2 separate regions of the Homo sapiens genome follow, and region 2 is linked to region 1. A link means that fine-mapping ties the variant in region 1 to the expression of a gene that starts in the linked region. Tissue or cell type: whole blood. Region 1 holds a variant in brackets; the other region holds the start of a gene. All regions are shown on one strand. Distances are from middle to middle.

Region 1 (8,104 bases):
GAAAAATAAGAAAACTATTTAAACCAGAGCACATTTCATTTTTCCTCAGAATTTTGGGTGATGATATTCTTTCCTAAAATTAGACAATATGAGAGAAGGCAAAAACCAATGGAGTGCTTTGAGACTCCTTCCTCTTAGTGATTAAGATTTCTCTTAATGACTTCTATTATGTATTTTATTTTCTTATATATTTTTTCATTGTAATTTTAAAAAATCTTTTTACACGTCAAACTCTCCCACCAGCCAACAAGTTTCTCAAGGACACTCAAATCAACAAGTGTTTATTGAGTAACTACTGTATATCCAATACTATGTGAGGTATAAAAAATCATGTCATGATAAATAAAACAGGCAGGGCCAGAGGTATGCCTTACTCATATTTGTGTCTCCAGTGAGCAGGATGGAAGAAGCACTAAACCACTGAATGAAATATAATTCAATATTCATTTTAATTAGTCGGAGCTGAATTTTTACACCTTGGTATGACTTAAGATCGGAATAGCAGTAAACCTGTAGTGCCAATTTGGAACTTCTCTAGTAAGTGGTCCAGAAATGCCAATTTGTCTTCAAACTATGTGCCATTGTTAGACTTTATAAAACAGGCAAGTTAAGACAGAAGAATACCTTATCTAAGAATGTTTAAGGCCGGGTGTGGTGGCTCACGCCTGTAATCCCAACACTTTGGGAGGCCAAGGCGGGCGGATCACGAGGTCAGGAGATCGAGACCATCCTGGCTAACACGGTGAAACCCCGTCTCTACTAAAAATACAAAAAATTAGCCAGGTGTGGTGGCGGGCGCCTGTAGTCCCAGCTACCCGAGAGGCTGAGGCAGGAGAATGGCGTGAACCCGGGAGGCGGAGCTTGCAGTGAGCCGAGATCGTGCCACTGCACTCCAGCCTGGGCAACAGAGCGAGACACCATCTCAAAAAAATAAAAATAAAAAAAAAGAATGTTTAAACTGGGACATCAAGCAGTTTACTATTCTGAGACTTCCCATTTTAAATCTGTCTGCTTTCAAATTCTTGTTAATTAGAATTACAATTTATCAATTACTGCCTAAGATATGTGATTTTAAAAAAGGATTTGTGGGCTGTGCGCGGTGGCTCACGCCTGTAATCCCAGCACTTTGGGAGGCCGAGGTGGATGGATCACGTGGTCAGGAGTTCGAGACCAGCCTGACCAACATGGTGAAACCTCATCTCTACTAAAAATACAAAAATTAGCCAGGCGTGGTGGTGCACGCCTGTAATCCCAGCTACTCGGGAGGCTGAGGCAGCAGAATCACTTGAACCTGGGAGGCAGGGGTTGCAGTGAGCTGAGATCACACCACTGTACTCCAGCCTGGTGATACAGCAAGACTCTGTCTCAAAAAAAAAAAAAAAAAAAAAAAAGCAAGGGGGTTCTGCCTGGTTTTGAATCCCAGCTCTTCCACTACATAGTGTAGCCTGGATGTAAAATGATAATAATAAAAAACATCTATCTCATATTAAGGCTACTGTTTAAGGATTAAATTAACATGTTCAGAATAGTACCTTAAATTAATGCACAGGCCCACAACTGTTACCCCAATCCATTGGGGGCAAGATGTTTTGGACAGTACCACATAATTAAATACATTAATATTTCTGTAGTGACGTTGCGTGTGGTGGCTCATTTCTGTAATACCAGCACTTTGGGAGGCCAATGTGGGAGGATTGCTTGAGCTTAGGAGTTTGAGACCAGCCTGAGCAACATAGTGAGAACTCATCTCTACAAAAACTTTTTAAAGTCCAGGTACGGTGGCTCATGCCTGTAACCCCAGCACGTTGGGAGGCCGAGGTGGGTGGATCACTTGAGGTCAGGAGTTCAAGACCATCCTGGCCAACATGGCAAAACCCCGTCTCTACTAAAAATACATTAGTTAGCAAGGTGTTGGTGCATGCCTCTAATCCCAGCTACTTGGGTGGTTGAGGCATGAGAATCGATTGAACCCAGGAAGCGAAGGTTGCAGTGAGCCGAGATTGTACCACTGCACTCCAGTCTGGGTGACAACGTAAAACTCTGTCTCAAAAAAAAAAAAGAAAAAGAAAAGAAAAGAAACAGGGTCAGGCATGGTGGCTCATGCTTGTAATCCCAGCACTTTGGGAGGCCGAGGCAGGCGGATCACCTGAGGTCAGGAGTTCAAGACCAGCCTGGCCAACATGGTGAACCCCCATCTCTACTAAAAATACAAAAATTAGCTGGGCGTGGTGGCAGGCACCAGTAATCCCAGCTATTTGGGAGGCTGAGGCAGGAGAATCGGTTGAACCTAGGAGGCAGAGGTTGCAGTGAACTGAGACTGCATCACTGCACTCTAGCCTGGGCAACAGAGTGAGACTCCGTCTCAAAAAAAAAAAAAAAAAGAAGAAGAAACAAAAGTTTTTAAAAACAAACCAGGCATGGTGACATGCACCTGTAGTCCCAGCTACTCATGAGGCTGAGGTGGGGGGATCACTTGAACCTAGGAGGTCGAGGCTGCAGTGAGCCAAGATCATACCACTGTACTCCAACCTGGGTGACAGAGTGAGACCCTGACTCAAAAAGAGTATTTCTGTAGTGAAACCAATTAATATCTACAGCAAGTAATAAAGACTAAACATAGCTTCAGTTCAGGTTACATTTTATACCCTAATGAGTTGTGGCACCATTACAGCAAAAATAAAACAAAACTTTAGGAGTTTTTTAGATTTCTGAATGGCCAGCAGGGCTTAATGGCTCATGCCTGCAATCCCAGCACTTCTGGAGGCCAAGGTGGGTAGACTGCCTGAGCCCAAGGGTTCAAGACCAGCCTGGCCAACATGGTGAAACCTTGTCTCTACAAAAGATACAAAATTAGCTGGGTGTGGTGGCATGTGCCTGTAATCCCAGCTACTCAGGAGGCTGACGCTGGAGGATAGGTTGAGGCTGCAGTGAGCCATGACTGCCACTGCACTCCAGCCTGGGTAACAGAGCGAGACCCTGTCTCGAGAAAAAAAAAAAAAAAAAAGAGAAAGAAAAGAAAAAGTATTTCCAAATGGCAAATAAGGAACTCTGGACCTGACCTGGGTTGTTACTGCTACTGCTGGTATGAAGACTAGGCCTTACACATAGGACTAAGATCTCATGTCTACCTTTAAGAAGCTCATGTTATGGTTATTCATGTGACGAGCCTAACTGAAACACAGACTAGCAGATTAGAAAGATCAAGACACAGGCAAGAATGATAGGAACAGAGCTGAGGATAAGAGATATCATACTGGCCAAGGTCTCAATGGTGTAAGAAAGAAATAGGTGGAAGAAAGACAATTACAATCAGACATCTTTAACTGAGATAATACTTTCTTCTCTTAAGGGAACTGTTTTGTTACAGCAGCCCCTTGATTCCATCTCTCAAGAAGTGCCAGAAAAAAAAAAAGAAAGAAGTGCCAGTTGGGTGCAGTGGCTTAAGCCTGTAATCCCAGTGCTTTGGGAGGCTGAAGTGGGAGGATTTCTTGAGGCCAGGAGTTTGATACAAGCCTGGGCAACATAGCAAGACCCCTGTCTCTACAAAAAATTTCAAAAATTAGCTGGGCATGGTGGCACACACCTGTAATCCTAGCTACTTGGGAGGCTGATGTGGGTGGATTGCTTGAGCCCAGATGTTTGAGGCTACAGTGAGCTATGGTGGCACCACTGCATTCAAGCCCGGGAGACAGAGGGAGAGGCCATCTCTAAAAAAGTAATGCCTTCTCTTGATCCACTGAGAAAGGGTTCTACTGAGGTTAGAGGCTGAAGAATGCTGATTCAGGACCATACCCTACCTTGTTTCCCACCAGTCTTCAAGAAAAGCTTGCCTATGCTTGGCTGGGATACACAAAGAGACATAAAATTAATACTCTGTAGCTGCATTTCCCACTTTCTATGATATTAGACCATCTTAGGTCTAATTCAGTGCTCTTCCTATTTATCAACACGTGACTTAGAGCTGATCTTCCTCTAAGATTTTAGGGGAGACTTCTT[T/C]CTCCTTGTTCTCCTAACATCTGATCTCAAGAAAATTCATCTACTTCCTCTCTTCTGTACTCTTCCAAGAAGGTACATGGAACACAAGAGAAAGGTACAATTATGTTTGTAAAACATAGCTAAGAGTTTGTATCAAATAATCTGTACATTTTAACTTGTTTGCTTAAAGTAATCTGCTAAACTCTGATTGACAAGTCATAGTTATTAAAATATGAACTTTTGGCCGGGAGCAGTGGCTCACGCATGTAATCCCCGCACTTTGGGAGGCAGAGGCGGGCAGATCACCTGAGGTTAGGAGTTTGAGACCAGCCTGGCCAACACGGCGAAACCCTGTCTCTACTAAAAATATAAAAATTAGCTGAGTATGGTGGCACATATTTGTAATCCCAGCTACTTGGGAGGCTGAGGCAGGAGAATCACTTGAACCCGTGAGGTGGAAGTTGCAGTGAGCCGAGATCACACCACTGCACTCCAGCCTGGGTGACAGAGCGAGACTCCGTCTCAAAAAATACAGAACTTTCAGTTGGTCAACCAAGGTGTAAACAGGTCAACAGACTTGTGTTAGAATAGGAAGCCAATGGATAAGACTAGGAAGAACACTGTCAAACCTTTCCTCATGGCCAAAACAAACACTAAAGTTGACTGACAAGCAATTAATCTCTACTTTCTATAACAGAAATGGCATAAAAATGTTGTTTCATAAAAACACTTACTGAAAATATAAAAATATAACCGCTGTTGGTTTACAAGACCAGCTGAGAACTGGATGAAATATTAATGTCTAAGAACCTCTTTAAAAATGAATACATTGAGGCCGGGTGTGGTGGCTCACACCTGTAATCCCAGCACTTGAGGAGGTTAAGGCGGGCGGATCATGAGGTCAAGAGATCAAGACCATCCTGGCCAACATAGTGAAACCCCGTCTCTACTAAAAATACAAAAATTAGCTGGGTGTGGTGGCATGCGCCTGTAGTCCCAGCTACTCGGGAGGCTGAGGCAGGAGAAATCACTTGAACCCAGGAGACGGAGGTTGCAGTGAGCTGAGACTGCGCCACTGCATTCCAGCCTGGTAACAGAGTGAGACTCCGTCTCAAAAAAAAAAGGATACTTTGGCTGTGTGCAGTGGCTCATGCCTGTAATCCTAGCACTTTGGGAGGCCAAGGTGGGAGGATCTCTTGTGCCCAGGAAAGAGAGGCTGCAGTGAGCTGTGATCACGCCACTGCATTCCAGCCTCAGTAACAGAGACCCTGTCTCAGAAAAAAAACAAAACAAAACTTTCAGCAGTGAGTACAGTCATTCAATCTCCAGATACTGTCGTTTCTTTTTATACTCCACTCCAATCTGTCAACTCCTTAGTTTGGCATTCAAGTTCCTCTACTACCTACTTATATCTTACTTTCCACTTCTCATCTACATGAGTCACACAGCTCAGTTAAGTCAAGCTCCTTGTTAATCTTTATTTTGAACCTTTCATAGGAAATGCCCTCACTGTTCCTCCCTGTTCATCCAAATCCTTCTTATCACTCAAAGCCCAATCCACATCCTACCTCTTCTATAAGATGCTCTCCAACCCAACCTTTATCAGTTCTGTATACCTAGCCTTGGTCACTATCATATAATCTAACATTAGATTTAGCCTTGCTCACTATCATATAATCTAACATTAGATTTATGTATTTTTTATGTTTTGCCATTCTTTCCCAACTCTTCTACTCTTTTGGCCATCCCTCATGTGCCTACCACAAAATATATATTTTGTTAATACTCCTCCTTTGAAAGGAAAAGAAAATAACTCCATCCTGCTTTCCATCATCCAGATATACATTTCCCTATACTTCCTAACCTTTTCATGTATTACTACAAATTGAAATTGGACTTGATCCCAGGATTGGTCAAATGTAAGTCACAGTTTTCAGTGAACACGCAGTATTTACACAAAAAGCTTAATCTGCCTGAAGGAGAGACAACTTAGATTTATCTAATAGAGTTCCTCATTAAGCCCAGTCATACTTCTGACCTTAGCTGGTGGGAGAAGGTGGGGTACTCTCATTACTTATTTTGAAACCATCTTAATTTATCAACTCACCTATTACATGGGCAGACACAAAGGCCACAGCATTTGTTGAGTTCTGTTAAAGTCTTCTCTGTCTCTCTCATGTCCTTATTTATTTGGTCCAAGCCTTCTTCTATGCGGTTTAGTTGTTCTAAGAATAAGTTGTGAAGTTAACACTTTGTGTTCCATTCACAGTGTCAACCAGAAAATGCTATTATTATGGAACAGCAAACTTCAACCTTGAATCTACCAATAACTCCCCACAGTGAGTATGTCAGTGTCAAAAGGTATTAGAAGCGATTCAACATGATAACAATCTTTCACGTACTGATCCGGAGGCACCTAGCCTCTTGCTGTGGAAAAATTTGTTCTAAAAAGCTTGTATATGGCTGGGTATGGTGGCTCACGCCTGTGATCCCAGCACTTTGGGAGGCCGAGGTGGGCGATGACCTGAGGTCAGGAATTCAAGACCAGCCTGGCCAACATGGTGAAACCCCATCTCTACTAAAAATACAAAAATTAGCTGGGTGTGGTGATGGGTGCCGTAATCCTAGCTACCTGGGAGGCTGAGGCAGGAGAATTGCTTGAACCCGGCAGTTGGAGGTTGCAGTGAGCTGCGATTGCACCACTGAACTCCAGCCTGGATGACAGAGTGGGACTCCCGCTCGAAAAAAAAAAAAAAAAAAAGAATCTTGTATAGTAGGACCAAGGGACGGTTATTTAGAGATCATCCTTACAACCAAGTTAAGGGTACTTTGACGAGGTCAAATCCCCATCATTTCTATAATAGGTTCAAAACCTGAGGGCTATTATAAGAGTAATAAAAACTAGACCTGATTACTCAGGGCCAACTCAACTCAAGTGTTTCCAAGCATACCTGAATCTAGATCTGTTTTAGAACTTGATTTCTGAGGATGATGTAAGAATATCACAATGTCTGGCCAGACACGGTGGCTCACGCCTATAATCCCAGCACTTCGGGAGGCCGACGTGGGCGGATCAAGTGACTCTTGAAGTCAAGAGTTCGACATCAACCTGGCCAACATGGTGAAACCCTATCTCTACTAAAAACACAAAAAATTAGCTGGGTGTGGTGGTGGACACCTGTAATCCCAGCAACTCAGGAGGCTGAGCCAGGAGAATCACTTGAACGTGGGAGGTAGAGGATCCTGGAGTAAGCCACGATTGCACCACTGCACTCGAGCCTGGGTGACAGAGTAAGACTCCGACTCAAAAAATAAAAATTAAAAAAACAAAACAAAACAAAACAAAAGGCCCGGCACGGTGGCTCACACCTGTAATCCCAGCACTTTGGGAGGTCAAGGCGGGTGGATCACCTGAGGTTAGGAGTTCGAGACCAGCCTGGCCAACATGGTAAAACCCCGTCTCTACTAAAAATACAAAAACTTAGCCGGGTGTGGTGGTGGGCACCAGTAATCTCAGCTACTCAGGAAGCTGAGGCAGGAGAATCACTTGAACCCAGGAGGAGGAGGTTGCAGTGAGCCAAGATCACGCCATTGCACTCCAGCCTGGGCAAGAAGAGCGAAACTTCATCCCCCACCCCCAAAACTAGACAAAAATAGCGAAACTCCGTCCCCCACCCCAAAAAAAAAGAAAAACATAGTTGGGTGTGGTGGCAGGTGCCTGTAATCCCAGCTATGTTACTATCATAATGTCTAAGGCACATATAACCAATACACAAAATAAGCCATGCTGGCCTAACACATACTTGGTATATACAATTGGGCATTGTTGCCTGCCATCCCAAATAGACAGTGAACATGATATATAATTCAAATCAGAAGACAAGAAGTAAACATAACATTCTTATTTTACAAAGGGAAGGCTCTCCCAAAGGCTGAAATTTGTATGTGGCTAATTTGATAGGGCTTTTTGGCATCACAGTCAAATTAAGAATTTCTGCTAATAATTTAACTTACCCTTTTGTTCATCCAGCATAGTGATGGTCTTGATTCCTGCATCCTGAGACTAAGACAAGGGGGGAAAAGCTGATAGTACAACAAAACAAACCAAAAACAACAGAAACAAAACCTA
Region 2 (8,091 bases), 700 kb before region 1:
ATCTCTGTGAAGCTCTCATGGGAACTGTACCGGGAAAGAGAAGATTCTCTTTGCTAGAACCAGAAGGAGAACACATTCCCCAAAGGGAGACCAGCCCACAACCTCCCCATTGCTCTCCTAGGTAAGGGGCCCTCTGTGGTGAAAATAGTTCTTTCAGCCAGACTTTTCTTTCCCCTAAAAGTTTTTGTTACTTTAAAAATATTAACACATAAATACAAGTTCATGGCACAAAGATACAAAGGGTATATAGAAAAAAGCCTTGTGCCTAGGCACTGATGTCTCTATCTAGAAGCAATAATTTTCTAGAAATAGTCTATATAAACACAAGCAAATTCATATATATTCTCCCCACGCACACATACCCTTTACACAAAGATAGTATACTATTCACATTGTTCTCTACCTTGCTTATTCCACTTAACAATACAGCTTGGACTGGGCGCGGTGGCTCATGCCTGTGATCCCAACACTTTGGGAGGCCAAGGCTGGGGGATCACTTGAGCACCGGAGTTCAAGACCAGCCTGGGAAACATAGTGGGACCCCATCTCTACAAAAAATAAAAATTAGCCAGATGTAGTGGCACATGCCTGTAGTCCCAGCTACTCTGGAGGCTGAAGTGGGAGGATCACTTGAGCCCAGGGGTTGAGGCTGCAGTGAGCCATGATTGCACCACTGCACTCCAGCCTGGGTGACAGAGCAAGACCCTGTCTCAAAACAAATAAACAAACATACAAATCAAGCTTGGAGATTGTTCCACATCCTTTTATATAGAGCTACTTCATTCTTTTTCACCTTTATGTATTTTATTGAATGCATGTTCCATAATTTATCTACCTAATACCTTATGCATGGATGTTTAGGTAGTTTCTAGTATTTGGCTATTATAAATATCAATGCCTTGAATATACTTGTATAAATTTCATTTTACACCTGTTTGATCATTTGTATGATAAATACCTAGAAGTAGAATGGCTGAATCAAAAGTATAGACTTTTTTTTTTTTAAGTGAGAGCAAGTTTATTAAGAAAGTAAAGGAATAAAGAATGGCTAATCCATAGGCAGAGCAGCAAAAAGTATAGACATTTAAAGTTTTGGTAGAAACCACTTAATTTCCCTTTGTTCTGGACTGAATTGTGTCCTCCCCAAAAATTCATATGTTGAAGCCCTAACCCCCAATGTGACTGTATTTGGAGATGGGACCTATAAGAAGGTAATAAAGGTGAAGTGGGGTCATAAGAATGGGCTTCAATCCAATAGGAATGATGTCCTTATAAGAAGACGAAAAGGAAAAGACACCAGAGATCTTTCTCTTTCCGCGTGGACACAGGGAAGAGGGCATGTGAGGAAGAGAGCCTTCACCAGACACCAAGCCTAAAGGCCCTGATCTTGAACTTCCATCCTACAGAAGGGTGAAAACATAAATATCTGTTGTTTAAGCCACCCAGTCTGACTAACACTCTCCGTAGAGGCTGCACAAATTTGGAGAGGCTGCACCAATTATTTATTAATTAATTTATTTATTTCTATTTTTTTGAGACAATGTCTTGCTCTGTTGTCAAGGCTGGAATACAGTGGCATGATCTTGGCTAACTGCAACCTCCACCCACCAGGTCAAGCGATTTTCATGTCTCAGTCTCCTGAGTAGCTGAGATTACAGGCACCCACCACCATGTCTGGCTAATTATTGTATTTTTAGTAGAGATTGGTTTTCACCATCTTGGCCTGGCTGGTTTCGAACTCCTGACCTCAAGTGATTCACCTGCCTCCCAAAGTGCTGGGATTACAGGCATGAGCCACCGCGCCCAGCCGAGGCTGCACCAATTTAAATTTGCACTCCCACTAGTATTATAAGAGAGCAACTATTTTCCTAAAACATCACCAACTCAAAATGTTGTCAAACTCTTTTATCTTTGCCAATCTAATAGGTGAAGAAAGAATGATATCTCAGGGTGTTTTTATTTTGCATTTTTATTAAATGAGGCTGAACATCTTTCCATGGAATTGATAGACATTTTTATTTCCTTTTCTGTGAATTGTCTATCATATCCTTTACTCATTTTTCTAATAGTTTGTTATTCTTTTCTTATTGATTTATAGGCATCTTTTATATTAAGGAGATTAATCCTTCGTGATATGAGTTTCAAATATTTTACCCAACTTGTTGCATATCTTGTTTTGTTTTGTTTTTGAGACGGATTCTCACTCTGTGGCCCAGGCTGGAGCACAGTGGCCCAGTTTCAGCTCACCGCAACCTCCAACCTCCCGGGTTCAAGCTATTCTCCTGCCTCAGCCTCCCAAGTAGCTGGGATTACAGGCACATGCCACCACGCTCAGCTAATTTTTTGTATTTTTAGTAGACATGGGGTTTCACCAAGTTGGCCAGGCTGGTCTCAAACTCCTGACCTCGTGATCCACCCGCCTCGGCCTCCCAAAGTTCTGGGATTACAGGTGTGAGCCACCGTGCCCCATCTGCATATCTTTTAACATTGTGAATATTTCCATTTAAAAATTTTTAAGGAATCAAATTTCTCAGTATTTTCTTTTTGTCTTCTGAGTTTTGCATAATATTTTTAAAGGTTTTCCCAAGTTAACTTAAGAAGAAGTGTCTCATTTTTTCTTCTATTACTTTAAGAATTTAATAAGAGTTTTGATCCATCTGAAATTTATTTTGATGTGTGGCATAAGATAGGAAGCCAACTGTATTTTGACAAGCTAGTTGTCCCAAAATCATTTACTGATAAATCCTTCATTTCCCCATGGATTTGAAGTGCCACATTTAGCATACATTTAATACATGTATTTTGATCTATGGACTTTTCAATTACAGTAATATCATATTATGTGTTCATATCTAGGAAGGCTGGTCACACTTTATTATTATCTTAGAAATTTCCTTTTGAACCTTAGAATCAGTTTACCTAGTTTCAAAAAACAATCTTGGTGTTTTTATTGGGAATGAATTAAACTTAAGATCAACTTGGGAAGAAATGACCGCTTTATAAAGTTGAGTTGTCCTACACAGGATGGTGATCTTCCTTTTTATCTGCTCAAGTCTTATTTGGTGTCCCTCCATACCGTTTCCAAGTGTTTTACTGACAGCACTTCACATTTCTTAAGTTTATTTCTAGAAATTTCACCTTTTGTTGTTGTTGCTATTATAGGTTGGGTCTTTAATTACAGTTTCTGACTTGTTATTGATTGCAGGTATGAAAACTATTGGCTTCTATACTTTTGGTATTAGCCAGCTCACTAAATTACCTTTTATAATCATTGTTAGTAGATTCAAGTTTTCCAGGTAAAAAATGACATCTTCAAATAATGAAAAATTAACTTCTTCATTTCTTATGAAGGATTTTTTTTTTTTTTTCTGAGATGGAGTCTTGCTCCATGCTGGCTGTGCAGTGGCACGATCTTGGCTCACTGCAACCTCAGCCTCCCAGGTTCAAGCAATTCTTCTGCCTTAGCCTCCTGAGTAGCTGGGAGTACAGGCGCCTGCCACCACGCCCAGCTAATTTTTGTATTTTTAGTAGAGAGAGGGTTTCACCATATTGGCCAGGCTGGTCTCGAACTCCTGACCTCAGGTGATCCGCCTGACTTGGCTTCCCAAAGTGCTGGGATTACAGGCATGAGCCACTGCGCTAGTGAAAGGCAGAAGTTTCATTTTTTTTTTTTTTTTTTTTTTTTACATAATAAGATCCTTCAAATGAGTTCAAAAGTTCAAAGTTTTAAAAGTATAAAAGAGTAAACAGCAGAAAGATAACCTTTCTACCCCACTGCCCAGATCCCCTCCCCACAGGCAACCAATATTTTTGGCAGTGTGTTTTATATCATTCTATAGACGTCTCATGTATATGCAGCAAGTACAGCTGCCCTGAAAGTGCTTCTGGTAACACAGTTTCACAAGCCCAGGTAGGGCCAAATATGAGATCCTTCTCTTGTCTCTTCAGGAACTAAAGAAAGAAAAATTGAAAAGACATAGGGCCTGAGTCCCAAGATAGTTCCCAACCTTCTCTGGTAGAGGGTCCCAGACCAGGTAGGCTTGGAAGAGTTGGGGCCCCAGCTTCTACTTTTAATACATTTATTTTTCACCAACAAATTCTACTTCCTTATCTTTTTCACACAGATAAATTGCAGATGCACGTGTTCTCTCTATTATCAAAACAGCCCATGAACATCTTGCAACTTGCAGCCCCTGTCACGTTTAGGGCCTGAGATTTGGAGTTGGATATGGGACTCCTGTTTGTGGCCTCCTCTCTTCCAGAGTCTTCCAGTGCAGTCCAGATAACATCTCTGAGAGTCTCTTGAGACCACTGAAGCAAGAGGCTTCAAGGTTTGTTCTAGGCTTCTCTAGTTGGCAGGTCTTCCCCATCCCACCCCCTCCCCCAGGGCTGCCAGGCGTATTCCTGCCTGGGCCTCCTGGCACAAGAGATAAAATGAACAGGGTTACTCCCAGTAACTGGTCCAGGAGATACCAGCAGAGAGGGAGTAGGAGAGAAGAAACATGTCAGGGTGCTCACAGGAGTAGTGGGGGGAGGTTTTGCTATTTCCAGATTCTTAAGCCAACAAAAGTGCCTTCATATTTTCTGTCTGGAAGACAGAAAGCCCAGAAGGAGCCCAGAAGCAACAGTTTGAGAGAGGCGCTTTCTGCGGCCAAGTGGATAAGAGGAGCGGCCTGCAACCATGGGACAGGGTGAGCCAAGCCAGCGCTCGACAGGGCTTGCTGGACTGTATGCAGCCCCCGCAGCATCACCTGTTTTCATTAAAGGAAGTGGGATGGATGGTAGGCGGGGAGATGGTGGTATAACTATGGTGGGGGAGGGGGTACTGGTGATAATGAGGTGGCTGTGGGGGGGGGGTGTGGTAGGTGGGTGCTGGTAGAGGTGATAGTGAGCTGGCTGTGGAGCGTGGTGTGATGATGGGTGCTGGTGGAGGCGGAGGCGGAGGTGATGGTGATGTTGCTGTGGGGTGGTTATGGGGTAGCATGTTGGGGTAAACTGGTCATGATAGTTGTATGATGGTGAGATGGTGATGGTGGTTAACATGGATTTATATTCTTATCCCAAGGTCATCATAGCATAAGTGTTCACAGCTTACTGATACAAATGAGAGACACCCTGGGTAGCATGAAGGTGTCACAGCTTCTACACCAAATGGGAGAGAAGGAGAGGAGGGAGTCAGGGAATCCACCTAAAAGGGGCAGAGGCAGACACAAAGCAAGAAACCAACACAGGTGGTCAGAGTCGCAGCACTCTTGGCAGGAATTATTATATCCTGGCCTGGGAATTGCCTGGCTGTTTTGTGTCCTGGGAGAAGCAAGCGGGTAGGCAGAGGGAAATGGTGCAGAGGTGTGGGGACAGTGGGGTGCAGCTGTGGTTCTGTTGCTATAGAAACTGCCTCACTCCCCTGCCCTGGTTGGTCTGGTGTGCGGAGGGCAACTGACGCTGAGACCAACAGCTGAGAAGGGAAGAAAAAGAACTCTGGGTGAATTAAGTCAATAATCTCAGCCACGTCTTGTGAAAATAGGGCAGACACCAATAAATTGTCCTTTTTTTTTTTTTTTTTAAACGGAGTCTCTCTCTGTCACCAGGCTAGAGTTCAGTGGCGCAATCTCGGCTCACTGCAACCTCCGCCTCCTGGGTTCAAGTGATTCTCCTGCCTCAGCCTTCTGAGTAGCTGGGACTACAGGCACCCACCACCATGCCCGGCTAATTTTTTGTATTTTTAGTAGAGACGGAGTTTCACCTTGTTGGCCAGGATGGTCTCGATCTCTTGACCTCGTGATCCTCCGCCTCGGCCTCCCAAAGTTCTGGGATTACAGGCGTGAGCCACTGCGCCTGGCCAAATCGTTCTTTTTATTCTGTAGAGACCAGACAAATTAAAATCTACTCAATCAGAGAAACACAAAGATATCAGGAGATTGTTTAGTCTAGTCCCAAACCAGAGGATGCCCCTGGGCACTAAATTCTTTCCAGGCAGTGGGTGGCAGAGGGCCCAGTAGCCACCAGATGAGAATCACTGAGTATGAACTCATGACATGCTGCAGTGGCTGGAGCTGGCTTGTGCTGACTTGCAAGAGCCAATTGCTAAATTTTGAGGAACCTTGTGAACCAGTTCTTAAACACAGGCATTATTAAAAATTAAATTGTATAAACTTACAAGTAAAAAATTTATATTAAAAAGAAAGATAATAAGTACTCTAAACTCATCACTTCCTACGTATTTTACTCCTTTTTACCTTTATGTTCTTGAGGGCGTTTATGTCTCCTGTATCTCTGTGCTGGAAAAACCACATGATGATGTGCCAGTCCGCGCCTCTTCACAGCTCTGCGCTTGCTGACATCACCTCAGTAGCTTCAGACTGGCCACAGGGGGCGTAGTTTACACAACAGAACTTGGCAAATGCTGTAACTCAGTACGCCCTTTCCCCTCACCGCCCCCTCCCCCCAGCCAGTCGTTAAACACAGAACTGCTTGAGGGGCACATCTGAGGCAGCTCTGGGGTATTGTGAAAGGCAGAGAGGGAGGAGGGTGGGGTATTGTGCACCTCTGAAGAGCATTCCACATGATCTCCGGGTTAACACAACTTCTCATGGGCTGTGGTACAAATAGGAGATGGTGAGAAAACACGAAGGTATCATTGCCTCAAGACCCAGTGGGAGAGAAGGGGAGGCAGGAGTCAATGAATCCACCTAAAAGGGGCAGAGGCAGAGATAAACCAAGAAACCAGGCAGACCTAAAGAATGCAGAAACCTCAGGGGCCCTGCGAGGGTCTGGCAGCACAGGTGGGGGCCTGAGGCCCCTGTGATGTATCTGAGAAAATCTCCTTTAAGGCCGTCTCAATGTTCTCATCCATTCATTGACGGAGCAAACACTGATTGGCTATCTATTGAGTTCTGCTGGGACAGAGGATGCAGATATGAGAAAGCACTGTATCTTGGGGAGCTCACAGTGAAAAGGGGAGCAGAGGACTAAGCAGGTGATGGGTATCAAATGGGATAAGTGCTGAAGAAAGTGGAGCAGAGTACTGTGGGAGTCCAGAGGACTGACCTCTGCCAGGAGGAGTCAGTGAAGGCTACAGAGGTGGGTGCCTTTGGATCTTGGAAGATGAGTAGACATCTGCCAGGTAGAGAAGAGATGGTGGGAGCCTTCTAGACAGAACAAGAATCCAAATGAATTCTAGTGACTCTTGCCGTAACACTATGGTCATTACGTGGGTTCGGATACACGGAGGCTCAAGTCATATGACTTAGGATGTGACTAAGGCATTCCACCATCCAATCCAACTCAACCAGTCTGCAGAGGCAGGGCTTACCCTGGGCCCCAGCACGAGCTTTGTGCTAAGCAGAAAGAGGAATCGTTTTTGGTTTCTGAGTGCTGCTGTACTTCAGTTTACAAATCCCAGCCTCCCCATGGCTACTTTATCTATAGCCATGGCCTGACCAAGCCAAGTGGAGGAGGGGGATACAAGGATGCAAGGGGCACCCAGGGACATGAGGACCAGACACAGAGAGGTTCCTTCCCTCCTCTGCACACTTTCACATTTCTTCATATTCAATAATGTCAGTTCTTTTGCCCTAAATAGACATCATTGGCATCTTCTATCATCCCCATCACCAGTGAAAGAAAAGTAGAACATCCTTCCCCTCTACTCTTCAGCTCTAAGTCAGAGAGACTGGGAATTGAGGAAAATTTGAAGTAGGAGTATCCTGAATTTGACAAGATCCGTCTTGTAGTCTAAAGGACCTTGCTATCAGGGTCATATCACTTCCCTGAAGTGGGTTAGACCTCATTTCATACCTGTGAGCAAAAGCCATAGTTTCTCTCTTGTGGCAGTTGAGCCAGTGCAAAAACTGCAGGCTGCCTTTCAGACCAAGGAGATTCCCAATGGCCTTCTGCTATTAAAGGAACAAAAAGTACACAATTCCTTTGCTGCAAAAACAAAACAAAACAAAAAAACCAACTTTTTTTCCAGCATTGTTCCTTATCTTGCGCTTGCTGAACATATCTTTTGACTTCTCTACTCCTTGTTTTTTTCTTCCCTCTTGTATTAGTCGGTTCTCACACTGCTATAAAGACATACCTGAGATGGGG

Evidence for each region. PIP is the estimated chance that this variant, and not a neighbour inherited with it, causes the effect.
Region 2: it holds the start of EPB42, and the variant in region 1 is fine-mapped to the expression of EPB42 in whole blood (TOPMed, PIP 0.95).

Annotation. Positions count from the first base shown.
Region 1 is chr15:42,513,333-42,521,436 of GRCh38, reverse strand. SNAP23 (synaptosome associated protein 23) reads right to left here. Exons shown (of 8, transcript NM_003825.4): 4 at 7,990-8,038; 5 at 6,083-6,200. Among named protein-coding and RNA genes, the nearest start is that of SNAP23, 22 kb to the right of the region's middle. RefSeq lists a silencer at 3,099-3,299. The variant T/C (reference allele first, on the strand shown) is at 3,997.
Region 2 is chr15:43,217,416-43,225,506 of GRCh38, reverse strand. EPB42 (erythrocyte membrane protein band 4.2) reads left to right here and starts at 4,489. Exons shown (of 13, transcript NM_001114134.2): 1 at 4,489-4,691. The coding sequence starts at 4,682.